4 linked regions of the Homo sapiens genome follow. The main gene of each other region encodes a partner of the protein of the gene in region 3 in a complex. Each region holds a gene or a part of one and is shown on either strand. Other genes may lie near its edges.

The links.
Region 1: SF3A2 (region 3) and SF3B2 share a complex: the UniProt entries of both Homo sapiens proteins name them as parts of the 17S U2 SnRNP complex.
Region 2: SF3A2 (region 3) and DDX46 share a complex: the UniProt entries of both Homo sapiens proteins name them as parts of the 17S U2 SnRNP complex.
Region 4: SF3A2 (region 3) and SF3A1 share a complex: the UniProt entries of both Homo sapiens proteins name them as parts of the SF3A subcomplex of the 17S U2 SnRNP complex.

What each region holds. Positions count from the first base shown.
Region 1 is NC_000011.10:66,055,350-66,062,370, reverse strand, and holds part of SF3B2 (splicing factor 3B subunit 2), read right to left. Parts: intron 6,837-7,021; coding exon 6,786-6,836; intron 5,534-6,785; coding exon 5,416-5,533; intron 5,106-5,415; coding exon 4,996-5,105; intron 4,318-4,995; coding exon 4,221-4,317; intron 4,058-4,220; coding exon 3,966-4,057; intron 3,542-3,965; coding exon 3,326-3,541; intron 3,171-3,325; coding exon 3,033-3,170; intron 2,857-3,032; coding exon 2,776-2,856; intron 2,590-2,775; coding exon 2,362-2,589; intron 1,790-2,361; coding exon 1,640-1,789; intron 686-1,639; coding exon 596-685; intron 481-595; coding exon 373-480; intron 1-372. UniProt on the Homo sapiens protein: Component of the 17S U2 SnRNP complex of the spliceosome, a large ribonucleoprotein complex that removes introns from transcribed pre-mRNAs.
Region 2 is NC_000005.10:134,754,106-134,761,789, forward strand, and holds the start of DDX46 (probable ATP-dependent RNA helicase DDX46), read left to right. Parts: upstream 1-4,673; 5' UTR 4,674-4,833; coding exon 4,834-4,850; intron 4,851-7,684. UniProt on the Homo sapiens protein: Component of the 17S U2 SnRNP complex of the spliceosome, a large ribonucleoprotein complex that removes introns from transcribed pre-mRNAs.
Region 3 is NC_000019.10:2,232,543-2,239,823, forward strand, and holds the start of SF3A2 (splicing factor 3A subunit 2), read left to right. Parts: upstream 1-4,281; 5' UTR 4,282-4,359; intron 4,360-7,281. Other genes in the region: PLEKHJ1 (pleckstrin homology domain-containing family J member 1), read right to left, coding at 1,456-1,519, 1,608-1,698, 3,220-3,286, 3,381-3,448, 3,613-3,706. UniProt on the Homo sapiens protein: Component of the 17S U2 SnRNP complex of the spliceosome, a large ribonucleoprotein complex that removes introns from transcribed pre-mRNAs.
Region 4 is NC_000022.11:30,346,874-30,353,894, reverse strand, and holds part of SF3A1 (splicing factor 3A subunit 1), read left to right. Parts: intron 1-822; coding exon 823-944; intron 945-7,021. UniProt on the Homo sapiens protein: Component of the 17S U2 SnRNP complex of the spliceosome, a large ribonucleoprotein complex that removes introns from transcribed pre-mRNAs.

The sequences.
Region 1 (7,021 bases), on a different chromosome or scaffold from region 3:
AGACACCACATCTGGCTGAGATAAAATTATTTCTCTCTGGTCATTCTTAATATTCAGAGACATATCTGGAAACACATTCACCAAACAGTGAATTTGGCTATTTCTGAGTGGTAAAATTGTGACTTGCTTTCATCTTTGTACTTGTCAATTCTGACTGAATATTTTATGATGAGCATGTCAGTTTCTTTAAAAAACAAAAACCATTATTTGTTTTTCTACACATACACATGGTATATGACAAATATTATGTCAATAAAATATTTTTTAAGTAAATAAAGAGACACATGGTGGAGTTAGAGAAGGAAAACAAACAAATTACCTTCCAGTTCAAAAGCAGAAATGGCCAAGAATGAACGAAAGGACAATGCTCACCTCAGGGATGGGCGAGTTCAGCCCAGGGATTTTCAGGTTGGGATACGATGGGGGTGGTCCATATCGCTGCATGGCAATCAGCCATGGGGGAGGGACCTTGTGGGCATTCTGCAGGAAAAAGAGAACAGGATACCATCTGCCAAACCCTATCCCTGTCTCTGCCTTCCACTCCAATCCCCACCAGCCTCTTCGCTGCTTCCCCAGACAGCTAACTGACACTCACTGGTCCTACTGGCATCCCCAAGGAAATCCTTAGCTCATCAGACAGATCTCCTGGCTTCTTCTCCTTCAGTCGTGTCTCGAACTCCTTCCCCTGAGGGAAAAGCAGAGCATGCTACATTGTAGACCCAGACACTCAGTGGGAGCACAATCCTAACGCACATCAGATATAAAATCCCAGTGAGGGCTACCTGGCTCCCACTCTGATTCTCATCACTTCTTTCCCTGGCCAAAGTCGGGGAAGGAATAAAAACCAGGCCAGACTCACAGTGCTGTCAATAACCCACTATGAGAACACGGCCAACGTTAGGACCTGCCTCCTCATCTGTAAAATGAGGGCACTCGACAGGAAGATATGCAAAATTCTTCCACCTCATAAATTCCATGACATCATGGTGACTACGATTTCAAGGATCAGAAAAAACCAGCAATTTCTCTACCACTCCCAATATTAAAAGTTTCCTAAAAGCATCTGCCCCTTGGCCCCTCCATCCCTAAACCACCTACCACAAACTATTATCATTTCTAAGACAGGATACGAAGAGTCTATCAGGGAAAGAAGCCACCAGATCTGCATCTCTCCTCCAAATAGAGCCTCATTTTTAAATTCCATCTCATCCGAGGGTAGTCGATGGGCAATTCTAAGGCTGAGGAACTATCGTAGTTGCTTCAAAAGCCCTCCTTGGCCAGGTGCGGTGGTTCATGCCTATAAACCCAGCACTTTGGGAGGCTGAGGCGGGTGGATCACTTGAGCTCAGGAGTTCCACACTAGCCTGGGCAACATAGCGAAACCCTGTCTCTACCAAAGATACAAAAAATTAGCCAGGTGTGGTGTGCCTGTGGTCCCAGCTACTCAGGAGGCTGAGATGGGAGGACTGCTTGAGCCCCCAAGGCAGAGGTTACAGTGAGCCGAGATCCCACCACTGCACTCCAGCCTGGATAACAGGGTGAGACTCCATCTTTTTTAAACAAACAAACAAACAAAAAAAAGCCCTAGACAGTCTCAACCCCAAGGCCCAGCCTGACCTCTCCCAGCCCCCTCCCGAACCTCATAGTACAGGTCCCCATGGATGGTCAGCTTTGGCTTGGTCTGCCACTTGAAGAAGGCATCATGCAGTTTCTGGTAGTCGATGTCAATTTTGCCCATCTTAGGCCGAACTTTCTCTCGCATTTTTGACTTCATGGTCTTCTGTTCTTCCTGTGGAGAATGGCAGCAAACAAGCCTTAACAAGTACTCACCAAATTCATGTAGAGAATCCAGCTCCCAACTCCAAATGAGATCATGGGAAGCCTCAATTATCTCACCCTGAAAGTCATCAAAATCCTTCCTGCTAAAACCTTTCAAAATTACATAATCCATACTGAACAAAACAGACTATACAATATCAGCCTCAGCCGTGTATATCAATAACTAGTTTTTAAACCATCTCATCAAGAGATGAATCTCAACAGTTCTCTGGAAAGCAGAGACTTCCCCATGTTCTTTTCTACCTCCTGAATTCAAAGCATTTAACTAAAAGCTTTAAAATTAAGAAGTTACACAACCACCACGAATCTCTAGCCACAAAGTACATCTGAGAAAGGAGTCACCAGGTGAGCTGGCAAAGTGAAGGCAGAGGGGAGGAAGAGCAGAGGAGGAAAACAAAAGGATAATTAGACAAGTAACAAGTAGGTGGTAGGTGGGTTTCAAACCAGATTCCCATTTTGAAGCACACTGCTATGAAGGATGGGGACACCCGGGGGCAGGTCTGAGCCCTGCCAGGCCCTCACCTTCTCCTGCAGGGCCTCTCGCATCTCCTGGATGCCTGTGCGTTTGATGAAGTCTGGCAGCTCGAAGGGGGGCTTCTCAATGCCCCGTTTGCCCTGCAGGTATTTGCGCTTAAAACACCAGTGGCGTGGCACAGGCACAGAGTTCCGAGTGGCCTTGAGGTGAACCAAGAGCTTAGGGTCCTGCGCTGTCACATCGTGCATCTCCACGACATCGGGCCGAGCCACCAGCTGGAAAACACATAGTAATGCGTGTTCTCGAGAGCCCCGACTTCTCAGTTCTGAAGCTCTTCTTCCTCAAAGGACCCAAACCCAAATCACCCACACCTCCTTCAAAGAACTCCTTTTCACCTCCCTGGCTCCCCAGGTGGTCTCCCAGCTGGGCTCCAGGGCCTGCAGGATCCTCTCAGGTCTTACCTGCTTGAGTTCAGCCACAGTGAAGCGGTTCATTCGGCGCAACTTCTTCTTGGACAGCTTGGGGGCTTCTGGCTTCTTTTCCTAGAACAGAACAATCAGCCCTTTTAAGCAGGACTCAGATGTGAATGAAACTGCCCAACCCACCCCAACCTTAAGCCACCAAAGCTCTGTAAGAGTTCACCATGGTCCCTCTCTGGATGCATCTCAGCCACCTGTGCCCAGAGTCCCTGCTTCCCACCAGGAGGGCTGGGCCTGACCTGCTCGTCATCACTGCTGTCATCATCACTGTCCTTGTGCTCCTCTTCAAATCCCTTCTTCTTGGGGGCTGCAGAGTTCTCCAGTTTGTCAAGTTTCTCTGGCTCCTTCTCTTTCTCCTTCTTCACATCATCAGTGAGCTAAGGAGGCAGACAAGGTGAAACCCCTGCCCTCTGAGCCCCTTCCCAGTTCCTAAGGCCAGCACTAAAAGATGCCTGTTCACCGCTGCCTCTCACCCACCTCTGAGCCCCTTCCCTGTTTGGCACTGCCCCTTCCTAGTGTGCTCTCCTTGTACCTTAAAAGCCTCAAAGATCCTCTTAAAGAAGATAAAGTTGGGCTCGTAAATTTCAGGTTCTTCAGTCACATACTCAATCTCAACATCAGCTGCTGGGGAATCAGAGCCACGGGACCGGGTTGAGTCTTTCTCCCGGTCCCCAGAGCTCTCAGAGGACACCCCTCGCACCCGCTGGGGCTTTTTCTTCTTCTTTCGGTTCCTACGCTTCCGGTTTTTCTGTCAAGAGGAGGAAAACCAGCTGGGTCAGGGAATCCAAGCACTGTGCCAGCACCCCAACCCCTAAACTCCTCCCCCATTCTCCCCCACAGTTCAACAGTCAGGCTTTTCCCAAGGAGGCCATCTCATGAAGTAGCTGCGAAGGGGCCTTGGAGTCAGACTCCAAAGTTCTGCCACTCACAAGCTGTATGCCTTTGGGTAAATTACTGTGCGTCTCAGAACCTCTGCTTTTTCAGCTGTAAAATGTAGGCACGTATAGTACTTGGAACTCAAAGCAATTAAATGAAAAATATCTATAAGATGCTGAGGGCGGAAATTGGCACAAAATAGAAGCTATTACTTACTGAACACTTACAAATTGTGTTATTTCCGTACCCAAGTCCCATCTCCTGGCTTTCCTTCCACACTCAGCTCCAATCCCTACCTCCTTTTTAGATACGGACACTGTGTCCTCCTCAGTCTCTGACGCTGACTGGCCCAGGGACGAGCGAGCATCTGTTTCCATTTCCTCTTCCTCTGTAAGGAAGAAGGTGGTGATGAGTCTTCACGGTGCCACTGCCCTGCACTCGTTCACAGTAACCTGCCTTTACCAAGAGCCAGGGAAAGGGACAGAGGGATGAGGACTCAGCTCAGCCTCTCCAGGTTCTGTGGCTACAGCATCAGAACGCCTGGCACTCACCCTGCTGAGAATTCATCTCTTCCTGGCGGCTCTCCTTCAGCTGCAGGATCTTCTCCAAAGCCTGGGGGATCTTGGGGCCCACAGAGGGGTCATCCATCTGCCAGAGACACCCAGTCAGAGAAGGCAAATCACAGTGCCCTTTTTCTTTTTTTTTTCTTTCTTTCTTTTTTTTTTTTTTGAGACGGAGTTTTGCTCTTGTTGCCCAGGCTGGAGTGCAATGGCGCGATCTCGGCCCACCACAACCTCCGCCTCCCAGGTTCAAGCAATTCTCCTGCCTCAGCCTCCCGAGTAGCTGGGATTACAGGCATGCACCACCACACCTGGCCAATTTTGTATTTTTAGTAGAGATGGGGTTTCTCCATGTTGAGGCTGGTCTAGAACTCCTGACCTCAGGTGATCCGCCCGCCTCGGCCTCCCAAAGTGCTGGGATTACAGGTGTGAGCCACCGCACCCAGCCCACAGTGCCCTTTTTCCACCAACTTCCACCTCTTGGACTAGAAAGGCTGCTGCCCAGGTGATGTAAGCAGCAGAGAGTGGGCAACACCAACTGGGCTCAGTGGGGTTTAGTGTTCCTCAGAGGGACCCCAAGACTCTGCCTCAGTAATGTCTCCCCAGTCCCTCTGCCATACCCTTAGTTTAAATAAGAAGGGCTCCCCACTACCCCCAGGAATTTAAGTCCCCCCATCTTCTCACAGAACCTTTCTCTAAAAATCCAAAAATAGTCCCATCCTAAACTACCACTCTCTTATCCCTAGGAATAAATCATCAGTCTCACCTCTCTGTTCTCATCTCCAGGGGGCGGTGGGGGACCACGAGGCCGGGGAACAGGGGCTCCCATGGGCAAAACTGTAGGAGTGGGGCCCACTGGGCCCACTGGAGCAGCTACTAAGAGACGGGAAAAAGAAATCCAATGTCAGAAGAGGCAAAACACTCACGTAAAAAATTACCTCTCTTGCTGAAAGGGTGATGGTAAACCTGCAGGGGAGGAGGGCACGTGGCGTGGCTTTTGGAATGCTGGTAATGTTTTGGATCATGGTCCAGGTGCTGGTTGTACAGGTGTGTTCAGTGTGTAAAAAACCATTAAACTATATATTTACTATATATGCCCTTTTTAAATGTGATAGATACCTTAAAAGTCTTTTTAAAAATGTCTAAATCACCTTCCTTGCCCTTCCCCTCGGTTCCAGGGTCTCACCTCGAGGACCCAGAGGAGTGCGCACACCAATCTGGCCCATGTCTTGTGGGGGCCGAGGGACTGGGGTGCCCATCTTGGCAATCTCCTGCTGTCGTTCCTGCTCCAGTAACACAGCTGCCTACGGGAGGGAAGTGGGAGTAGATACTGCCTGAAAACGCATTTGGCAGGCAGCCCCTGGCAAATGCATTCTTTCAGCCGGGTAATGGGCCCAAGGAGAACAATCACGAACCACTTGGGTGCTGACATCCCCTCCACCCCCACACTTCCAGGCTACTAATCCAAACGGAGGAGCCCTCTCATCACAACGGAAAATCCCTAGAAATAACACCAAGGAAAACCCCAGGAAACTTCTGGTTCCTAGCAGAGAATTTCATATTGAGCCAAACAGTGCCTTCTACTTTTCAGAGAGTTTTCTTCCCCAAAAGATTAAATTATACAGAAGAAACTTTTGAGCTCTTTTCTTATATCCACCCCTCAAGATCCAGCACAATCTGGGCAAAGACAGTACTTTACCCACAGGTCCAGACTTGTGGCTTTTTTTTTTTTTTTTTTTTTTGAGACAGAGTCTGGCTCTGTTGCCTAGGCTGGAGTACAGTGGCATGATCTCAGCTCACTGCAACCTCGGCCTCCCCAGCTCAAGCCATCCTCCCACCTCAGCCTCCCAAGTAGCTGGGACTACAGGCATGCGCCGCCACACCTGGCTAATTTTTGTATTTCTGAGAGACAGGGTTTCATTATGTTGGCCAGGCTGGTCTCGAACTCCTGAGCTCAAGCGATCCACCCACCTCAGCCTCCCAAAGTGCTAGGATTACAGGTGTGAGCCACGGCACCCAGCTCATACTTGTTGCTTTTTAACACTTACTTTTTAATACTCCTGAGTAACCCACTGGGTAATGACTGATGCAATGCACCTCTGGGGCCAAACATCTTATATAACATTCCCAGACTTACAGTCCTATTCTGTCTAAATCCAATACAAATAACTCAATTACCCAGAGTCCTATCTAGAATGATGTCATGTAAGGCGAGCAGAGGTCAGCAGGCTCTTTTTATAATAGGTCAGAAGGTAAATATTTTAGGCTTTATGGGTTGCTGTACAGACTCTGGTACATATTTTTGGTTTGGGTTTTCTTATAACCCTTAAAAAATTTTAAAGTTATTTTTAGCTCATAGGCCATACACATGCAGGCCACAGGTCATAGTTTGTCAATTCCTGAACTTCAAGAAAAATTGAAAGCTTTGGAAGATACTAGAACTTAGTTGAGAACAAAGTAGCCTCCAGGGAAAACTTGAATGGTGCACTCTAAGCACTATAAATGACAGCCAACTGACTGGACCACGAGGTCAAAGGTTAGGGGGAGGGGTATTACCCGCTTCTGCTGCTCCAAGAGCTCATGTTCCTTCAGCGAATGATCTCCCTGCTTAAAAAAGAAAACAAGTTCATACCAGCACCAATACCCAACACGCCAATCTGCCACAACTCTTGCTTCTTGAGATCCTCTTCCAGTCAAGGGCCCATGTTCCAATCTTTAGTCCCGACCTTCCCAGAAGCCTTAGTTCTAGGACCCAGCTTTCTCTAAGGCTCCACTGCCCCTTCAGGGACCTA
Region 2 (7,684 bases), on a different chromosome or scaffold from region 3:
GATTACAGATGCATGCCACCACATCTGGCTAATTTTTTGTATTTTTAGTAGAGACAGGTTTCACCATGTTGGCCAGGCTGGTCTCGAACTCCTGGCCTCATGTGATCCACCCACCTTGGCCTCCCAAAGTGCTGGGATTACAAGCGAGAACCACTGCGCCTGGCCTGGGAATTGAAGTTTCTTAGTGTTTGGAATAGTTTAAAACGTTTTTTATTTGGAAATTTCTGGGTTTTGAAATGTATATGGACTGGCTGGGCACCATGACTCATGCCTGTAATGCCAGCACTTTGGGAGGCCGAGGCGGGTGGATCACTTGAAGTCAGGAGTTTGAAACCAGCCTGGCCAACATGGTGAAACCCTGTCTCTACTAAAAAAACCAAACCAAAACAAAAAAAAATTAGCCAGGTGTGGTGGCGGGCGCGTCTGTAATCCCAGCTACTCAAGAGGCTGAGGCATGAGAATCACTTGAACCCGGGAGGCAGAGGTTGCAGTGAACTGAGATCGCGCCACTGCACTCCAGCCTGGACAACAGAGTGAGACTCTGTCTCAAAAAAAAAAAAAAAAGGTATATGGATTAAAACTAGAGGGACAAGGATGGTTGTTTAGAGGTGACATCTTGACCATGTAACCTAGTAGTTTTTTTAGTTCAATTAGTTGTGTAAATGGACATGTGTCATCACAGTTGGCACTAAAAACAGCAAGTGGGTTATTAGATATTCAATACTGGGTTAGTAAGTCAAGTCACAGTCAAAATCTGCTGCTTTGGAAAACAGGTTAGTTTACTGAAAGTGATGTATTAGAACACAGACTATAGTCATTTCTTTCACCTATCTAAATAGATAAAATCTTCCAGCCTCACACCTGTAATCCCAGCACTTTGGGAGGCCGAGGCAGCAGATCACCTGAGATCGAGAGTTCGCGACCAGCCTGACCAACATGGAGAAACCCCGTCTCTACTAAAAATACAAAATTAGCTGGGAGTGGTGGCTCATGCCTGTAATCCCAGCTATTTGGGAGGCTGAGGCAGGAGAATCGCTTGAACCTAGGAGGCAAGGTTGCAGTGAGTCGAGATCGCGCCATTGCACTCCAGCCTGGGCAACAAGAGTGAAACTCCGTCTCTAAAAAAAGAAAAAAAAAAGCCTTCCTCCAGGACAGACTTGATGTGAATTTACTATAAATATATTGTGGTGGAGTGGGGGTGGTGCACACCTGTAATCCCAGCACTTTGGGAGGCCAAGAGAGGCAGATCGCTTGAGACCAGGAGTCCAGGAGTTTGAGACCAGCTTGGGCAACATGGCGAAACCCTCTCTATGAAAAATACAAAAGTTAGCTGGTGGGGTGGTGTGTGCCTGTAGTCCCAGCTACTAGCTACTTGGGAAGTTGAGGCACAAGATTCGCTTGAACCTGGGAGGAGGCTGCAGTGAGCCGAGATCACAGTACTGCACTCCAGCCTGGGCAACAGAACCAGGCCCTGTCTCAAAAAAAAAAAAAAAAAAAAAAAAAATATATATATATATATATATATATATATATATAAAATATATATTCTATATATATTATATTAATGTAATATTAATTAGAATATATATTATATATATAAGAAATATTTAAGCCAGTTAGAATTGTCTTGTTAATGTGTTGTCTTAAAGGGGAGTTGGAAATAAAGTATCTTGAAGACAGCTCTGGCCTAAGTGTCAGATCTCTGGACTCTAGTTCCAGGTTAGATTCCAACAAGGTTAGTGATCTAGGATGAAATATGTTTCCTGAGTCTCAGTTTTGTTACTTAAAATCAAGAAGTTTGAGTTTGTGATTTTAAAAATCTATAACATTAATCCCATGATTCTTTTTATTATTATTTTTTGAGACAGAGTCTCGCTCTGTCGCACAGGCTGGAGTGCAGTGGCGCGATCTTGGCTCACTGCAACCTCTGTCTCCCGGTTTCAAGTGATTCTCATGCCTCAGCCTCCCGAGTAGCTGGGATTAGCACGCACCACCACACCCAGCTAATTTTTGTATCTTTAGTAGAGACATAATTTCACCATGTTGGCAAGGCTGGCCTTGAAGTCCTGCCCTCATGTGATCCACCCGCCTCAGCCTCCTAAAGTGCTGGGATGACAGTCATGAGCCACTGCATCTGGCCCTAATCCTGTGATTCTAAGCAATATTCAAATTGTGTTAATTTCAAAAATTAAGGACTTATTTCCATTCACTTCTGCATGGCCTCATCCAGTCCATGGCTTCAAATACTGTGTATTATACATTCTATAAAATGCTGAGGACCCATATCTCTCCCGCCTCTATTTGTAGCTGTTATTTCCTGGATGTCTAGTAGGCACCTCAAATATCACATGACTGAAACAAACTCAATGACTTTCTCTATTTCCTCCACTAAATCTGTTGCTTCCATGCTTTTCTCATCTCCACAAATTCACCACAGTCCACAATAGCTCTGTTGAAAACCTGGCAGTCATCTTTTATTCCTTCCTTTCCGTCATAGCTCACATCCAGTTTATCTATTGGCGCTTTGAGAGCTGCTTCCAGAATACACCCAGAATCTGATCACTTCTCAGTCTTCATTGTTTAAGCCACTGGTGGTTTTCTATGTCTTTTAGGTTGAAATCCACATTCCCTACCTGCAGCCCACATCCAAACAATTTACAGGGGGATTCCTAACCCTCCTTGGTGTCCATCCTGTCACTCATTAATTAGCTCAGGCCTTCTTACCCTTGGCATGGACTGCCAGAACCTCCAGTCTCTATCCCTCTTCAATGCTTCTCGCAGCTACCACAGGTGGGCAGCAAGCCACGGGGGGCGTGGGGAGCATAAACTCATCTTGGAGTGTCACTCGTTGGTTTGCTTTTTTTCTTTAATCAACTATGTTGAGGTAAAATTTACATACAATAAGTCATGTACAGTTAAAGGGTACAGTTCAGTGAATTTTGAAAAATGTGCAAATCTATTCAATGACCACTAAAATCAAGACACAGAACTTTTCCATCATCTTTAGGTGTAAGAAAGTAAAATAGTACAGAGGCAAGTAAAGTAAAAATATGAGCCTTTCTCCAACTCCATTATAGCTTTTTGCAAAAACAACTCAACATGGCCGGGCACGGTGGCTCATGCCTGTAATCCCAGCACTTTGGGAGGCCGAGGCGGGCAGGTCTCCTGAGGTCGAGAGTTCAAGACCAGCCTGACCAACATGGAGAAACCCCATCTCTACTAAAAATACAAAATAAGCTGGGGTGGTGGTGCATGCCTGTAATCCCAGCTACTTGGGAGGCTGAGGCAGGAGAATCGCTTGAACCCAGGAGGTGGAGGTTGTGGTGAGCTGAGCTCTCACCATTGCACTCCAGCCTGGGCAACAAAAGCGAAACTCCGTCTCAAAAAAAAAAAACAAAAAAAATTCAACATTTCTGTGTGTGTTGCATGAGACAATACATATACATTTTTTTGGTGCCCAAACTCTCGAATAATGTTCTCAATCTTGACTGTACTTCAGAATTACCTGGGAAGCTTAAAAATTCCCAGTGCACAAGAAGCACTCCAGGCCAATTAAATCAGAACATAGGGGTGGAACCCAGGCTTCTATTTTATTTACTAATATTTTAGAGATGAGATTTCTCTGTGCTACCCAGGCTGGAGTCATCATAGCTCACTGCAGCCTCAAACTCCTGGGCTCAAGTAATCTTCTTGCCTCAGCCTCCCTGGCTCAAATGATCCTCTCACCTCAGCCTCCCAAGTAGCTAGAACCACAGGCGTGCCAGCACACCTGGCTAATTATTTTGCTTATTTTTTGTAGAGGGTCTCGCTATGTTGCCCAGGTAGGTCTTGAATTCCTGGGCTCAAGCCATCCTCCTGCCTCGGCCTCCCAAAGTGCTGGGATTATAGGCATGAGCCACCATGGCTGGCCCTTTTTTTGTTTTTTTGTTTTATTTTTAAGCTTCCCAGTGCAAGCAATGTTGAGAACTAATCTTTTGCCAAAGTATTTTTAGCTCTTTGTTCTCTACTAGGTTAACACCTACCGGGTCTTCAAATCTCACCTCAGAGTTCACTTCCAAGGGAAACGTGTTTTCTGAATCCGTCTCCAATGGTGGACTCTCCTTGCTGTATTACTTCTGCTTGTGTTTTTAGTCAAGTCTATTATTATTACTATTTTCTTTGCAGAGACGAGGGCTACGTTGCCCAGGTCTTGAATTCCTGGGCTCAATAGATCCTCCCGCCTCAGCCTCCCAAAGTGCTGGGATTTCAGGCGTGAGCCACTGTGCTGGCTTTAGTCATCTGTTTCCCGGATAGACTGTGAGCTCCCCAGGATCTAGCACAAGCCTGGCATATGACAACATAAATAAATGAGTGAATGTATACATGAATAAAGAGCGTGTACGGAGAAAGTTGCCGCATTATTTAGCGCAAATTAAGGCAGACATCAGCCTGCCCAGGACGCCTCTTTGGCTCTGGCGCGAAACACCCTCACGGGCCGGCGAGGCTGACGCGCTGCGCTCCATCGCACTAATCAGCCGGGCGTGGTGCGGGCGCCGGGAAGACTGGGCGGGGCGAAGGCATCACCTTTCGATGGGGCCGGCGCTGTGCGTCCTCCAGTCGAGGTGGGGCGCTGTGGAAGAGCGGCAGCTTCCGGTCGGCTTTTCTCTTCCTTCGGCTGCCGGCGCCAGCACGTCCTGTTTTCGTTGGCCGCGCTGGGATGGCCGCCACAGCTGTAGGTGCTGCTAGTGTTTAGCGCTGGTCTTTGCCGGGCGTTGAGGGCAGCTCAGCCTCCTTGTTTGTCCGGTTCGCCTGTGCGTGGTACTCAAGGGCACCAGTATTCCCGCGGTCGGCAGCATGGGTCGGGAGTCACGGTGAGGCAGAGCGCCGAGCGGGCTAGCGGGCGAGCGGCTTCTTGGGGTCGTGAGAAGAGGCGGGAGTTGAGGTGGCCGCCGGGCCAGGCCTGGCGCGGCCCCACGTGCGGTCAGCGCTGCCCCGCGAGCATTGGAAGGGCTGGGGGACCTCGGCTGAGGGAATGGTTGTGTTTGGGCCAGCGACGGCTTCCCCTGCACTACCATCAGAGGGTTCGAGCCCCTGGAGCGGGAACAACCCTCCAGGACGTTAGTGATTGGGCACCACATCCCGCCACTTCAAGGGAGCCTGCCCTGATTACTTCAGTCAGAAGTGATCCCAGTTGGATTGCTTATTGCTTCGCGTTTCCAACATTTCCTCGACTCCTGTCATTCTGTATTTTAGTTCTTTGTGCGCGTATGATCTTTTCCCAAGTTACTTGAAAGGAGCGTGTGGGCAGACATTTTTACCGCATCGACAGCACTATACACGACTAGGCTTTTACTGGGCTACAATAAATACTTGTTGCGTGGGCATTTACTTCGCAAATAGATTTCGTATTTAAGCAGGTAACTTTGTTACCTGCTTTTCTGTCCTTTTGAAGTTGTGGACTATGAGCTCTTATTAGAACTCATTAGATCTCATCACAACTTTAGATTGTTGATAGATTGTTAGGAACCTTGAGATTTTTATGTTAAAAATGACTATTTGCTATGTATTTAGCAATGACTGAAAGATATTTTATGTCTAGGAACAATGAAGGCTTTTGTTGTTAGTGCTAACAGTTCTTTGTTGAGGTACAATTAACAATCAGGGAAATGGACAAAACGTAAGGGTAAAGCTTGATGAAATTTAGCAAATATATAAACCGTGTAATCATCACCTGGATGAAGATAAAAAATATTTCTTTAACTACAGAAAATTCCTGTGACGGTGTTTTAAATCTCCGGAAGGCTGTCCAGACCAGAAATCTGAAAGTGATATTTATTTGACTCATTCTTCTCTCTCACTACCCACAGCCTGTTAGATTCTACATCCTTTGCCCATTCTGGTTGTCCCTGACTTAATTGAGGCCCTAATTATTTATTGTCCAGACTACTACATCTGTTTTAAATTGATTCTCTGAATTGATTGTCTTCCTCTGTTGCTCTCCTAATTGTTAGATCCCTTACACTACAGCCAGAGTGACACTTCTGAAGTAGAGATAAGATGATGGCATGCCCCTGACTTAGTCTCCATTGGTTTCTACTGCTTCCAAGATGAAATTTAAACTCTATGACAGCCTTCAAGGCCCTTCACAAGAAGGTCCATTCTAGCCCGTCAGCCTTCTCCTTTACCTCTCTGGTGTGCATGGCCTGTGCTCTAGGTTTGTTCAGGGAATCATGAAAGGCTTAGAGGTGGGAAGGCGCAAGGTGTTAGAGAAATAGCTAAAAAGCCCAATTTTTCTGCATATGTAGGTTTCATGAAGGGATTTTATCTTTTTTGAGAAGTAGTAGGAGGTAGGTCCTGAATAGGACTTGGGCCCAGAAAGCGGGTGGATTGTAGATTTTGAAGATCAGAATTTGTTTGTGAACCTTTGAAGATTTTGAGTAAAAAGTGTGTAATAGAATCAGAATTCTCCTTAGCAGCAATGAGTAAGATTTAATGGAAAAGTAATAGAAACAGGAAGACTACAGTCTTTAAGAATCTCCTAGGTAGATATGTCTGATATAGAATAGTGACGGTTGGAACTCTGTGGAGGTGATATAATGTGAAGGGAATTACAGAGGTGAAATTGGTATTACTTGGTTGTTTTTTTGTTTTTGTTTTTGTTTTTGAGACAGAGTCTCGCTCTTTCGCCAGGCTGGAGTGCAGTGGTGGGATCTCGGCTCACTGCAAGCTCCGCCTCCAGGGTTCACGCCATTCTCCTGCCTCAGCCTCCCGAGTAGCTGGAACTACAGGCGCCTGCCACCGCGTCAGGCTAATTTTTGTATTTTTTAGTAGAGACGGGGTTTCACCGTGTTAGCCAGGGTGGTCTCGATCTCCTGACCTTGTGATCCACCCGCCTCGGCCTCCCAAAGTTCTGGGATTACAGGCGTGAGCCACCGCACCCGGCCTGTTTTTTTGTTTTTGAGACAGGGACTTGCTCTGTCTCCCAGGCTGGAGTGCATTGAAACAATCTTGGCTCACTGCAACCTATGCTTCCCAGGTTCAAGAGATCCTCCCACCTCAGCCTCCCGAATAGCTGGGACTGCAAGCGTGTGCCACCACGCTTTGCTAATTTTTGTATTTTTTGTAGAGACAGGGTTTCACCATGTTGCCCAGGCTGGTCTCAACTCCTGAGGTCAAGCTCTCTGCCCACCTTGGCCTGCCAAAATGCTGGGATTACAGGCATGAGCCGCTGTGCCCAGCCAATTGGTGTTTTATTTATTGTATCGAATGAGAGCAAGAGAAAAATATTGATGATGACTAATGTTTTGAGCCTAGTGACCGGAAGTTGGTACGATTAATCGTTTGGGGAGGGAAGGGTAACAAGTTTGGGTTTCTACAGATTGAACTTGAGGTGCTTGAGAGATAATCAGGTGCATTCATCTCCTAGTGATCTTATTTAGGTTTATAGCTTTAAATAGCCTTTGTACACTAATAGCTGTCCAGTTTATATTTCTAGAGAAACCTCTTCCTTGAACTACAGGCTAATATTTCAACTATATACTATATATCTCCACTTGGATACCTAATATTCTGATCCACCTTCTCCCTGGATTTCTCCCTCAGCCTTCCCATCTTGGTAAATGGCAACTGAGTGATTTCTCTCTTGCTGTCACACTTGACATTTAGTTCATCATTAAATCCCATCGGTGCTAGCTTCAAGATATCC
Region 3 (7,281 bases):
CTAGACGCTGTAATAAACAGACTGTTTTCACTCGGACCTGGTGTGAATGGCAGCCTTTCTTCCAGGTGGCATGAGGCGTCTCCTGGCGGCCAGTGAGAGGCCCCGGCTAGTGTGTCATCGCCGAAACGGGGAGTGGAGGGCCTAGGGGTGCTCCTAGCAGAAGCTCCGGGGGCTGACACCAGGACACCCTGGCCTTGGGGAGGCTTATGAGGGCACCAGGCCACAGGCAAGGGGAGGCTTATGAGGGCACCAGGCCACAGGCAAAGTGCCTTTTGATGAACGGAAAACCAGATCTGCGACCCCAATGACATCGGCAAAGTCCTTTTCACATCAGATGGACCAAAGCCCGCCCAGGCCCCAGCCACACTCCGGGAGGGCCCGTGAATGCCAGAGGCAGGACCCCAGGTCACCACAGGATTCCTGATACCACACAGCAGCTCTGTTCTCCCCAGGCCTGGGTCCCAGCCTCCACCTGTCCTGGCTGGGGGTTCTAGCTCTCCCCTCAGTGCAGGAGGCCCAGCCACTGCCTCTCAGGACCCTGAGCCTTACTTCCCTTGGGTGGGGGCTCCCTGGCTGCCCCTCCCCTCTCCTTCACTTCACCGCCATCCAGTGTGGAAAAGAGGTACCTTTATTTGAACAGAACAAGCACCCTGGCCCCAGGGCAACCACTTCCCCAGGTGCACAGCCAGGGCCCTCCTGTCTGCAGGAGAATTCACAGCTGGTGTGGGACTCAGCCCCTAGGCCATTCACAGCTTTGTCTGGCTCTGTACATTCATTCAGCACGGGGCAGGGGGGCCATGCCACCAGCCTGGGGGCTCACCAGGCCCCTGGATGCACACAACTCAGGCAGGGCACCTGTGGGAAGGCGCATATCCTGGCGGCAGCAGCACGTGGCACCAGGTGCCAGGCCAGTTAGGTGGATCCTGGGGCCCCAGGGAGCGCAGCTTGCTGGGCAGTTTCATAAAATGCAGCCCCTGCCCACACCCACCTGGCTTCAGGCTTTGGATGTCTCCAAACCAAAAACCTCCCACTGAAAATCCAGGTGTGATGGCCGGGTGTGGCGGCTCATGCCTGTGATCCCCGCTACTTGGGAAGCTGAGGCAGGAGGATCACTTGAGTCCAGAAGGTCAAGGTCACAGTGAGCTGTGGCACCACTGCACTCTAGCCTGGGCAACACAGTGAAACCCTGACCCAAAAACCAAAAACCAAAACAAAACAGATCCAGGCATGGCCAAGCGATTCATGGCTGGGCAGGGCCAGTCCCGTCCCGCTGCACGCTGACCACCGTGCCCTGCGCTCACGCCTGCAAGCCACTCAGCTGGAACCTGGCCTCCTCGGATATGCCGAACTGTTCCAGGGGGTCCTGTGGGGAGGACGGGTGGCCATGAGCCAGGGCTGGAGGACTGCCTCTGCCACCTGCAGCCCCACCCCGGCCCTCTGCAGCCCTGCACACACCTTGCCCGTCACCTTCCGGATTTCGTTCCTGTAGAAGATGAGGCTTCTCCGCATGAACTCGTAGCTGGGGAAAAGGGTGGCACGGGGTCAAATGCCCGCTCTGCATGGCTGCTGTGCCCACCCCAGCAGTGCCCACCACCGCCTGGCCCCACCTGGCCCGACGCAGAGCCTCCATCCACTCCTGACACTGCTCCTCGCTGCTGCACTCAAAGTGATACTTCCTCTCAGGGTCCTCAATGAAGCCTGGGGATGGAACACCTGTGGTCGGTCCTACCCACAGCCACAAGCAGCTTCCTCTTGCCATTGCCCATAAACTGTCCCTTCTCTGGCCCCCACAAAGATGTGTTCATGTCCTGACCCCCCAGAACCCATGAGTATGGCCCTGTATATAAACAGGGTCTTTGCATATAAACTAGTCAAAATGAGGTTGTCGCCAGGTGCGGTGGCTCATGCCTATAATCCCAGCGCTTTGAGAGGCCAAGGTGGGAGGATTGCTTGAGCTCAGGAGTTCGAGACCAGCCTGGGTGACATGGCAAAATCCCCATCTCTACAAAAACAAAAATTAGCCAGGTGTGGTGGTGGGGCCTTGTAGGCCCAGCCACTCCGGAGTCAGAAGTGGGAGGACTGCTTGAGCCAAGGGGGTTGAGGCTGCAGTGAGCTGTGATCACGCCACTGCACTCCAGCCTCGGAAACAAAAGATCCTGTCTCAAAAATAAAGAGGGCCGGGTACGGTGGCTCAAGACCGTAATCCCAGCACTTTGGGAGGCCGAGGTGGGAGGATCACCTGAGGTCAGGAGTTCGAGAGCAGCCTGGCCAATATGGCGAAACCCCGTCTCTACTAAAAATACAAAAATTAGCTGGGCATGGTGGCGCGTGCCTGTAGTACCAGCTACTCGGGAGGCTGAGGCAGGAGAATCACTTGAACCCGAGAGGGGGAAGTTACAGGGAGCCGAGATTGCACCACTGCACTCCAGCCTGGGCGACATACCAAGACCCTGTCTCAAAAAATAAGCAAATAAAATAATAAAGTGAAGTAAAAAGGGGTTGTCAGGGTGGGCCCTAAATTCTGCTTGGCGTCTGTGTAGAAGGGGAAATGTGGGCACAGACGTGATGCAAGGAGGACAAGGTGACGCTTCCACAAGCCAAGGAACCTGGAGGATACTGGCCACCACTAGGAACTGGGAGATTCCCCTCGGCCTCAGAAGGATTCGGCCCCACCCACACCTTCATCTAGGATTTCTGGCCTCCAGAACTGTAGAGAATGTTTCTGATATTTAAGCCACCTGGCCTGTGGAATTTTGACAGCCACTCTGGGCAAACTAGCAGGGACTCCATCTTTCCCCGCAGAAGGGAATCTCTTAAGACCCAGGAGAACACCCCCCTCTCACTCCTCCTACCCCCACCTGGGATTTCCAGCCCGGGGCCATATAACAATGCTAGACCCATGCTACTCTTGGCAGCTGGGGAAACGCTTTGGGTGGGGCTGGCCCACCTGCCCTGTAAGTACAGCCTGGGCCCACAGGGAACAAAGAGCAGAGTCTGGGAGGGACCCAAGCTTAAGTGGACTCGGCAGGTGGGAAGGGTGGTGCCCGCCAGGAGAACTTGACCTTGAGCTGCCCGTGGACAATGCACTCTTGTGTTTGAGGAGGGTGGCGCCAGGCTGGGGACACAGAGGAGACCTTGGGCGCCCGGGGAGGGGAAAGTGCGGCGCTGCGGGTGCCCCGGGCTGCGGGAAGCGCCGCTGGCTTCCCTAGCCCCACTCACTGATGGAGAAGGTGCCGGGCTCTTCCCGGACGACTCTGCAGCGCTCCAGCAGCAGGGCTCCGACGGGCTGGAGGAGACACGGGCGCCGGGACGGGGCAGTGAGCACCCGGCCTCCGAGGGGCCCAGCCTGGGACCCGCCCGCGCGCCCGGGACGCCCCTACCTCGGCCTCGTCTGTCCGAAAGTAGAAGAGGAAATTCACCACCAGCTTCACCAGCCGCCGCTTCAGCACTGCGGGCACAGCGCGCACTCAGGGGCGCAGGCAGCCCCCGCCCGGACCCCGGCCTCCCGTCCCCGGCGCCCCGACCCGGACTCCGGCCTCCGGCACCCCCGCCCAGACCCCGGCCCCGGCCTCCCGCCCCTGGCACTGTCTCGGTCTCCCGGGTCCCGCTCACCGCTGCCCTTCTTGGGGCCCCTCATGCCCAGCTCGGCCGCCATCTCGGCCGGCTGCCGGGACAGAGCCTGCAGCTCCTTCTCGTTGTACCGCATGGCTCCGCGGGGAACGGGAACCCGGGCCGCGCCCTCCCGGCCGCCGTCCCCGCTCAGGCTGGGGCCGGCGCCAAAAATGTCTCAGGGCGCAGACACGGAAGCACCCCCAGGGCTAGTGCGCCTGCGCACCTTGGGCCAGCCATGCCGCCCGCCTCCGCTGCGTGGCGCTGGCGACCCGTGGCTGCTGGCGTGGGCGGGGTACCGGTTGGTAGGAGAGACGGACCGTTGTTACATAACCATTAAACTGAAATAAACCGGACCAAGGTGGAACAGAATCAAGGCACCCCAGCGATGGCTGGCACCCCTTTCTAGAGCGGCCAGGCGCAGGCGGAGGGAGCGATAACGTCGCCCGGAGAGTGTCAGCCGCTCCCTCGCGAAAGTTGGCCCCGTGCGGCCGCAGCGGACCGAGGGTTCGTTGAGAGCGTTGTGCGCACGCGCAGTTTGCCTTCCAGGCCGCGCTTTCAGCCTCTCCCCCTCCAGCCTTTTCCTTCGCGCCTCGGGACCCTCTGACTCACGCCGCTGGGCGGGCCAGGCATGCGCACACCAGAGGGCCCGTCTCATTTGCCCCGGAAGTGCTTTCTTTGCCCGCCGTTCGCCAAACGAAGTCGTGGAGGTGGCGAAACGAGGAGGAGATAACGCGGCCTTGGGCTCTGGTGAGGAGTAGAGGCGGTTGAGGGCGGCGGCCGACGCGGACCGGGGGTTCCCTGGGGGACAGCGGACGTAGGAGAGAGGCGCTTGCGACAGGCCGCGGGCCGAGGGTGGGGCGGCGGCGTCGCTCCCCTCCCTCCTCCCGTGAGCGTCCGGCCTTGTGCATCCTGAGGCCCCGCGCTGGGCGGGCCTGGAGGGTCGGGCCCGCCAGGAACTCTATTTCCAAACTCCTGTTGGGAGGCCGCGCGCGGGGCCTCACGCCTGTAATCTCACTGCTCAGGGAGGCCTTGGCGGGAGGATCGCTTGAGGCCAGGAGTTCGAGACCAGCCTGGACAACACACCGAGACCCCCATCTCTACAAAAAATTTTAAAAAATTAGCCAGGAGTGGTGGTTGTACCTGTAGGCCCAGCTACTCGAGAGGATCGCTTGAGCTCGGAATGTCGAGGCTGCAGTGAGCCATGATCCCACCACTGCACTCCAGCCTGGGCAACATAGCGAGACCCCATCACTGCAAAAAAAAAAAAAAAAAAAATTAGCCGGGCGTGGTTGGTGACGCGCGCCTGTAGTCCCAGCTACTCTGGAGGCTGAAGCGGGAAGATCGCTTGAGTCCAGGAGGTCGAGGCTGCAGTGAGTTGTGATTGTGCCGTTGCACTCCAGCCTGGACAACAGAGCAAGACCCTGTTTGACAAAATAAAAAAGAAACAACCAAGATTCGTTGGGGTCGAATCGGGATCGCGGCTGAAATGGTTTCGGCCGCCTTCCTTGTAGCCGAGAACGCTTCTGTATGCTCATCTATACCTGTTAGTTGACTGGGGCTCTGTGATGTAATTCCTGTGAGCCTCAGTTCCCTTAAAATGGGAGTGACGGCTTCAACATCATGCCAAAGGCGACCAGAACACGTTAGCTGGCCCCATTTTGCAGGTGCACCCCGCTGTGACCGTTGTTCTTGTGTATCCTTGGACGACACCAAACAGCCAGGCGGAGCTCTGGAAAATAGGTTGTTGGCTAGGTTAAGGAGAGAACGGTGTTGCCACGAAAAACTAATTCCTTCTCAATGGTCTAGTCCCAGGTCCCAGAGGCCACTTTTCCTCAATTCTTAAGCTCATTTCCCCTGGTCGTCATCGGTTTTTTGTTTGTTTTGAGACAGGGTCTTGCTCTGTCACCCAGGCTGGAGTGAGTGCAGTGGTGCAATCACAGCTTACTCCAGCCTCAAACTCCCATGCTCAAGCCATCCTCCTGCCTCAACCTCTCGAGTAGCTGGGATCACAGGTGCTCACCACCATGTCCGGCGAATTTTTGTATTTTTTGTAGAGACGAGGTTTCGCCATGTTGCCCAGGCTGGTCTCGAACTCCTGACCAGGTGATCCACCTGCCACGGCCTCCCAAAGTGGTAGGATTACAGGCATGAGCCACTGCACCCGGCTAATTTTTGTATTTTTTGTAGAGATGGGGTTTTACCAGGTTGGCCAGGCTGTCCCCTGATCTTTACCTTAGTAAGTAACAGATTTCTTCATGGATTTATCAATTTGTAGACATCATCTGCTGATTTCTTGTCACGGCTGTTGAGATCTTCTCCCTCCCATCCACCCACTGCACCTTCACCTTCCATATCCTGAATGAGTTTATGTCATGAGCATAGTTGGTCATTGGTTGTGTTTTCTAAATAAGATGCAAAATATTGTTGGCTGCTAAAACAAGTAATATGTTCAGCTAGGCTTTTCTTGTACCATTCTATCTTCCCTTAAAGCTAATTAACTTTGTTTTTACCATGAGCCTGATTTTCTTTTACCTGCTGTTTGTTTTTTCCCCACAAAGCTCCCACCTCTCACACACCTATCAGTTGTATTTTGCATAGGTTTAAATAAATTGATCTCCCCTCACCACTTCCCTCCAAGACCCCCTTATCCTCCTCCTCCAAATGGGACTGGTTGTGCTCTGACCTGGAAGTGGAGCTGTTGTCCCAAACCTTCCTGTCCTTGCTCCCCTGTGCTGACCTCTGTTTCCAGTGTGGTCATCTCTTTCCCTTCATGCTGTCCGAGCAAAACTTCTGGGAGCTTTTGAAGAAACAGATGATTTTTTTCGGGGGGTGGGGGAAGTCCTTGATTGTCTGAAAACGAGTTTATTTACCCTCATAGTTAGAAGTTTGGTGGGGTATAAAAATCTAGATTGAAAATCTGTATTTGTAGGCCGGGCGTGGTGGCTCACGCCTGTAATCCCAGCACTTTGGGAGGCTGAGGCGGGCGGATGACCTGAGTTTGGGAGTTTGAGACCAGCCTCGCCAACCTGGCGAAATCCCATCTCCACTAAAAATATAAAAATTTGCCAGGCGTTTTGGCATGTGCCTGTAATCTCAGCTACTCGGGAGGCTAAGGCAGGAGAATGGCTTGAACCTGGGAGGTGGAGGTTGCAGTGAGCCAAGATCGAGCTACTGCCTGGGCGACAGAGCGAGAATCCGTCTCAAAAAAAAAAAAAAAAAAAGAGAGAGAAAAAAATCTGTATTTGCTCAGAACTGTGAAAGCATTGTTTTCAGTGCTGTTCTCAAAAGATCAGTTCCTATGCTGGTTTCTGATGTTTTCTGCTCAGTTGTCTTTCTGTCTAGTAGAAGCTTAACATCTTCCTTGGTGTCGTAAAATTTCCTGATTTCCTCATTTACCGGGGATCTTTTTATTTGCTGATCCTGGTGGGTGCTTGGTATCTGGACAGTTTGGTTCCTTTAGTCCTGGGTTTTGTTTTTGTTTTTAATTTTCTTGCTAATGTTCTTATGTTATTTCTGTGATAATATTTTTCCTGTTTTATTTTGTTGGGTGTTTTTTCAGTTCTCACTCTGGAATGTCCTCTAGGTTCTTGCTTTTCCTCCTGTTTTTTTAACTTTTGACTTTCCTTTATGAAAGATTTGTTTGGCTCAGCTTCCAACTCTGGTATGGAA
Region 4 (7,021 bases), on a different chromosome or scaffold from region 3:
GGAACATGGTTTCTCAGAATGTAGTCGGAGTCCCTGCATCTGAATCACCTGGGCATTTGGTAATGTAGCAGGACGAGTCGCAGACAAAACTCCTCAGACACCGGATTAAAGAAGGAAGAGGTTTTTTATTCATCCGGGAGCGTCGGCAGACTCGTGTCTTAAGAGCCGAGCTCCCCGAAAAAGAAATTCCTAGCCCTTTAAAGGGCTTACAACTCTAAAGGTCTATGTGAAAGAGTCATAATAGATCAAGTAAGCGTGAGGAACGTGACTGGGGGCTACATACATCAGCTAACAGAACAAAAAGTTTTACAGTGCTTTCTCATACAATGTCTGGAATTTACAGATAACACCAGTAGTTTTGGTCAGGGGTTAATATTATTATTATTTTAACCACCAGGGCCAGGTGGTGGCACCAAGGTCGTCTAGCTATTTATCTTACTTCTGTTTCTTTCCAACTTTTTGCTTTCTCCCTTTTCTCCTGTCTTATAAACTAGGGAAAAGGGGAGGTTGGGGAGAAACTGGGAAGGACAACAGGAGAAGTGCTGGTCTCATACCATAGTAAAAATGCAGATTCCTGGTCTCACTGAGATAGTCCAGTGAGAGAGGAGCCAGGGAAGCTGCTCTTCTCCCTGGGTCCCCAGGAGCAGCCCCTGCAGGTGCAGTGAACTTAAGAGAACTGCTTTTCTGAAGTAGAGGGTTCTAACCTGAGGGAAGTCTGTGAATGAAAGTCTACTCTGAATGATATCCTAGAGGAGTTTTACAGTGGAGAACCTGCTCTGAACCAGGGACTTTAAAACCTTATTTCTTTTCCTGTTTGCACAGCCCACAGAAGAAGAAGCATCTTCAAAGGAGGATTCTGCACCTTCTAAGCCAGTTGTGGGGATTATTTACCCTCCTCCAGAGGTCAGAAATATTGTTGACAAGACTGCCAGCTTTGTGGCCAGGTAACAGAGCTACTTGGGTGGGTCAGAGGTGGGTTTCAGCATGAAGAGACTTCAGCACTGAATCAGCACAAGGGTTTTTAAAGAGACGTTGTTGGCTTGGGCCTTTTAGTTCATAAAAAACCACAACATGGCACTGGGGTAGGCAATAGGTAGGACTGGTGTCCCTGACACAGCATAGCAGTGGCCAAAGTGAGAATCACACTTAGCCCCACAGTCACCAGGAGCCTCTGCTTCTAAAACTGGCCTGAGGAAATGCCTGGAAAGCTGCTTCATCACAGATGGTGTGTGTCTGTGCCTGAGCTGCTGGCCTGAGGAAGATAAAAAGGGGAGTTTATTATTCTCATTGTACAAAGACCACATTCCAAGAGCCTCAAATGACCCATCTGCAAAATGGAAAAAATGCCATCTCAGAGTTGTTGTGAGGCGGGAGTGAGGTCATGGGGCTGCATGCAGTTCAGTTCCACGCGGGTGCTAGTCACCTCCTCAGATGGCATGGGCATTGCTCCGAGTTCCTCCTGTCTCTCCTCACAGTTCCATGCAGGTGCTAGCCGCCACCTCAGATAGAATGGGCATTGTTCCGAGTTCCTCCTGTCTCTCCCCACAGTTCTGTGCAGGTGCTAGCTGGCTTCTCAGATGGAATGGGCATTGGTCAGAGATCCTCTCTCTCCCCACAGTTCCATGCAGGTGCTAGCCGTCTCCTCAGATGGAATGGGTATTGCTCTGAGTTCCTCCTGTCTCTCCCCACAGTCCTGTGCAGGTGCTAGCTGGCTTCTCAGATGGAATGGGCATTGGTCAGAGATCCTCTCTCTTCCTACAGTTCCATGCAGGTGCTAGCCGCCACCTCAGATGGAATGGGAATTGCTCCGGGTTCCTCCTGTCTCTCCCCACAGTTCCACGCAGGTGCTAGCCGCCACCTCAGATGGAATGGGAATTGCTCCGAGTTCCCCCTGTCTCTCCCCACTGTACTTACCCTCACATCCTTAGATGGAATTTTTTTACTGGCCCCTTGACTCCAAAGGTCAGTACATTCTCTAGGGTATTTAAGGTATTCCTTTGGCAGCCCTCAGTCCATGTCCAGCCTACAGATGTTTTGTTTGTCCTCACAGTAATTTTTTCGAAACTCAAATTTGTTGCTACTATTTAAAAATGAGGAGGTCAGGTGCTGTGGCTCTTGCTTGTAATCCTAGCACTTTGGGAGCCCAAGGTGGGAAGATCACTTGAACTCAGGAATTTGAGACTAGCCTGGGCAACATAGTGAGACCCTGTCTACAAAAAATAAAAAGTTATCTGGCTGTGGTGGCATGGGCCTGTGATCCCAGCTACTTAGGAGGCTGAGGCAAGAGGATCGGTTGGGCCCAGAAGGTTGAAGCTATAGTGAGCCATGGACTCTAGCCTGGGTGACAGTGAGACCCTGTCTCAAAAAAAACAAAACAAGTAAAAATGAGATTTCACAATCAGTCTGGATTTCTGGACAGTTCCTTCATGTGTGGAAGCAGGCCCAATCAGCATGTGTTCTCCAGGGACCACGTCACCCCCCTGAGGCAGTGTCTCAGTCAGTATGCATCATTTAACGGATGGTCCTTCCTTTCCCAACCTAATAAAATTAGACATAAAGATTACTTTGGTTAGACTTTCTTTTTTTTTTTTTTAAATGACATGGAGTCTCACTCTGTTGCCAGGCTGGAGTGCAGTGGTGCAGTCTCAACTCACTGCAACCTCTGCCTCCTGGGTTCAAGTGATTCTCCTGCCTCAGCCTCCCGAGTAGCTGGGACAACAGGCGTGCGCCACCACGCCCAGGTAATTTTTGTATTTTTAGTAGAGACGTGGTTTCACCGTGTTGGCCAGGCTGGTCTCAGTCTCTTGACTTAATGATCCCCCGACCTGGGCCTCCCAAAGTGCTGGGATTACAGGCGTGAGCCACGGCACCAGCCTACTTTGGTTAGACTTTCACTATGTCAGCTCTGCAGATTCATCTCATTACATTTCAAGGGCTTTGATTACCTTTGAGTATTAGGTTGAAAGCTTCTCTGTGCTTGATTGAACATTGTGATGATGTTGATTGGGTCATGTCAGATTTAGACAGTGTTGTGTTTAAGATAAATGTTTAATGGCTCTTAGCAGTGTTCATGCCTCCCCTTTTCCCCTGATACTTTAAAAACAGAATATACAGAAAAGGGGAGTTGGGTGAAGAATCACCATATTCTCATTACCAGAGTAGTGTCTACCAGCTGTTTTCACATTTTTCTGTTTCCTTCTGTCCTTGGAATCCTTTTTTTAGATCCTTGTAATACTAGTAAAGATATTCCACTCTGTGTTGTAAGCATTTTTCCATTTTGCTCCATGGTCTTCATAATGCCCTGTGGTCCTTTATTAAGGGGATGCACCATGTAGAGGTGAAAGGCTTTCCTTGACTTGGCCACCATTTCTGTATTTTCCTTAGAGGAGGAGGTTTCCAACATTTCTTTTTTAGAGACAGAGTCTCGTTCTGACACGCAGGCAGGAGTGCAGTGGCATGATAACAGCTCACTGCAGCCTTGAACTCCTGGGCTCAAGTTATCCTCCCACCTCAGCTTCCTGAGTAGCTAGGACTACAGGTGCCTGCCACCACACCCAGCTAATTTTTTTTTTATTTTTTTTATTTTTTTTAGTTTTTTTGTATAGATGGGGTCTTTCTGTGTTGCTCAGGTTGGTCTTGAACTCCTGGCCTCAAGTGATCCTCATGTCTCAGCCACCACAAGGTGGCTGGGATTACAGGCAGTGACCACCGCACCTGGCCTGTTCCCAACATTTCATTTTGGCAAATTAAGCTGTGGGGAAATCTCTGAGCATTTTCTTTCCCTTTTAGATCGTTTCCTTAGAAGAAAATTCTGTGTGGCTCATTATTGGCTAAAAGAGCATCCTTAAAAGATTTCTTAAACATTTTGCCAAGTAGCTTTCCAATAATTTTGTGCCATCCTCTGCTGCTAAAGAAATAAGAGGATATCCAAGGTCCCTTTAAATATATATGACCAGGTTAGGTGGCTCACGCCTGTAATCCCAGCACTTTGGGAGGCCAGGGTGGGAGGATCGCTTGAACCCAGGACTTGGACACCAGTGTAGGCAATATAGTGAGACCCCTGTCTCTACAAAAAATAAAAAAATTAGCTGGGCATGGTGGCGCATATCTGTATTTCTAGCCACTTGGGAGGATCACTTGAGCCTGAGAGGTCAAGGGTATGATCATGCCAGCGTACTCCAGCCTGGGGCGATAGAGCAAGACCCTATCTCAAAAAAAAAAAAAAAAAGAAAGAAAAAAATCCAAAACCATGCACATCCCTAGATTGATTTTTAGCTATGGTGATTGCTTTTGTAGGCATTTCTAAAATCTGTGAGCCAGTGTGGTGGCTTACACCTGTAATCCCAGCACTTTGGGAAACTGAGGTGGGCAGATCACCTGAGGTCAGGAGTTCAAGACCAGCCTGGCCAGCATAGTGAAACCTCGTCTCTACTAAAAATACAAAAAATTAGCCAGGTGTGGTGGCGGGCGCCTGTAGTCCCAGCTACTTGGGAGGCTGAGGCAGAAGAATCGTTTGAACCCGGGAGGCAGAGGTTGCAGTGAGCCAAGATTGTGCCACTGCACTCCCACCTGGGTGACGGAGCGAGACTCCGCCTCAAAAGTAAATAAATAAATAAAATCTGTGAACTTATCGTTTACATTGCAACAAAGAGACCAATATCCGAGTTAAAGCAGGCATGCAGAACTCTGTGCTTCACTTCTCCTGGGTTCACGTATATTTATGGAGCATGCAGTAGAAATGCACAACTGAGCGGTTTTCCAAAAGTTTTTTCGCTAGGTTAGGCCTTTTCATTTCCTGCATGTTCCTGTCAAGAAACTGAAGTGGAAATTACCCTTAAAAAGTCCCACCAGCTGGGTTGAGTCAGAATCATGTCTTTTTCTGTTGAAATCTATTCCTTCTGGTGGAGAGTATGATTCTAAAATTAACGTTAAGCTAATTTAAAGCAACTGAATAGCTTGGAATGAACATGCCAAGCCTTCTCATTGTTTTATTTTTCAGATTGTTCCCAGATGGGGTAAAGTTATGGCTTAGGCAGTGGTACAGGAGACAACCAGGGCCCCTTTTTCCAGGAGCCCTTTGTCTGCCCGAGGCATTTGCTGGGTATAGTGGCCTAGTTTAGCAGGATTTAAGTGTGCATTCACCTTCATTCTTATGTGTGGTTTGCATTATTTAAGGAGTAGGGAGAATTTTTTTTCCAAAGCATGAGGTTCCAGTTAGACTAATATACTGTCAAATTGAGACCTCATGGTGTTAGTTACACGGCAGGGTATGACCACGACTTGCTGAGGAGCCAGCCTGGGTGTCGATCACTAGTGTGGCACATAATTGCTGTGGTGGTTGATCTGGGGCACAGCACTGCCTGTACCCTGTCTCCTGCCATCTGTCTTAAAAAAAATTTAAAAAATTTTTGTTTTCAGAGGTGAAATTTCATTTTGTTGCCCAGGCTTGGGTATGATCTTCTGGGCTCAAGTGATCCTCTCGCCTCAGCCTCCTGAGTAGCTGGGACTACAAGTGTGCGCCACTGTGCCGGGCTCCCACCCCCTCTTAAACTCACAGGCCAGGGATATGAAAGTCTGAAGAGTGGAGCTGGCTAGCTGGCACCAGATGCCGGGGCCATGCCTTGGTGTGTTTGGGGCAGTTCTAAGTACAAGGTTCTCGCCAGAGGAGCAATGGAAGGCCCCACAGACAATGTTTATGGAACAACCCCTCCTAGCCCCTTGCATTTGCAGGCCACTGTACGATTTGAAAAGACTTTGAGGGCTGGGTTCAGTGGCTCACGCCTATAATCCTATCACTTTGGGAGGCCAAGGCGCTTAAGCGCAGGAGTTTGAGACCAGCCTGAGCAACATGGTGAAACCCCGTCTCTACAAAATGTAAAAAAAAAATTAGCCGAGCATGGTGGTATATGCCTGTAGTCCCAGCTACTCAGGAGGCTGAGGTGGGAGGATCCCTTGAGCCCAGGAGGTGGAGGTTGCAGTGAGCTGAGATTGTACCACTGCACTCCAGCCTGGGTGACAGAGTGAGACCCTGTCTATAAAACAAAAACACTTTGGCATCTCCTCAATAATGTTTCAAGGTAGAAAGGGAAACTGGTGTTAGCTGCATTTTACACATGGGGAAATGGAAGCAAAGAGTAGTTTGGTAACTTGCTGTGGGTCAGAGTGAGTCAGCAGTGAACCTGAGACTTGAACGTGTTCATATCTTGTGTCTTTAAGGTCCGTGTACTTTCTGACTGACACAGGTGTTGTATATAAGTGTGGCACTTTGAATATTACTGTTGGGACATTTTAAAAATCAGGGTTCCCTAAACATCATTATAGGGACATTTTTTCATTATCCTGAGGTTTTGAAGGCTTGCTGGGGACATGGGGCATATCTGGGGAACCATCCCAGGTACAGACAGTGGTTGGAGACCTCCCTGCTGATCTTACCACACCCCTGTCATCTGAAGGTGCCTTATACAGCTGTACGAGTCTGGGTTTTTGCTGAGGATGTTTCCTGTGTGGGCCTCACCAGTATAATGGGGGTGGTTTTAGGGAGTACTTGGACAAGGCGTTAAACCAACTATTTGTTTTTTGTTTGTTTGTTTGTTTCTTAAAGACAGGGTCTTGCTCTGTTTTCCAGGCTGGAATACGGTGACACGATTCTAGCCCACTGCAGCCTCAGACTCCTGGGCACAAGTGATCCTCCCACCTCAGCCTCCTGAGTAGCTGGGACTAGAGGCACACACCACCATGCCCAGTTAATTTATTTTTATATTTTTTTGTAGAGTTAGGGTCTTTTCTTGTTGCCCAGGCTCAAATCAACTAAATTTTCATGTCTTTCAGTCTTTCTTGTTACTCAGAGGACAAAGTCTAGGTTTGGTGCTCATGTACCTTTTACACCTCTCCAGCACTTGCTACCCCTTTGAACTAAGAGAATTAGTCTCAGCAAACTTCCAGCTAAACTTTGACAGTATTACTTTGTTTTCATTATGTTCACTTTTGACTACCTTTTGTTGGTAAAGGCATACTGATTTTT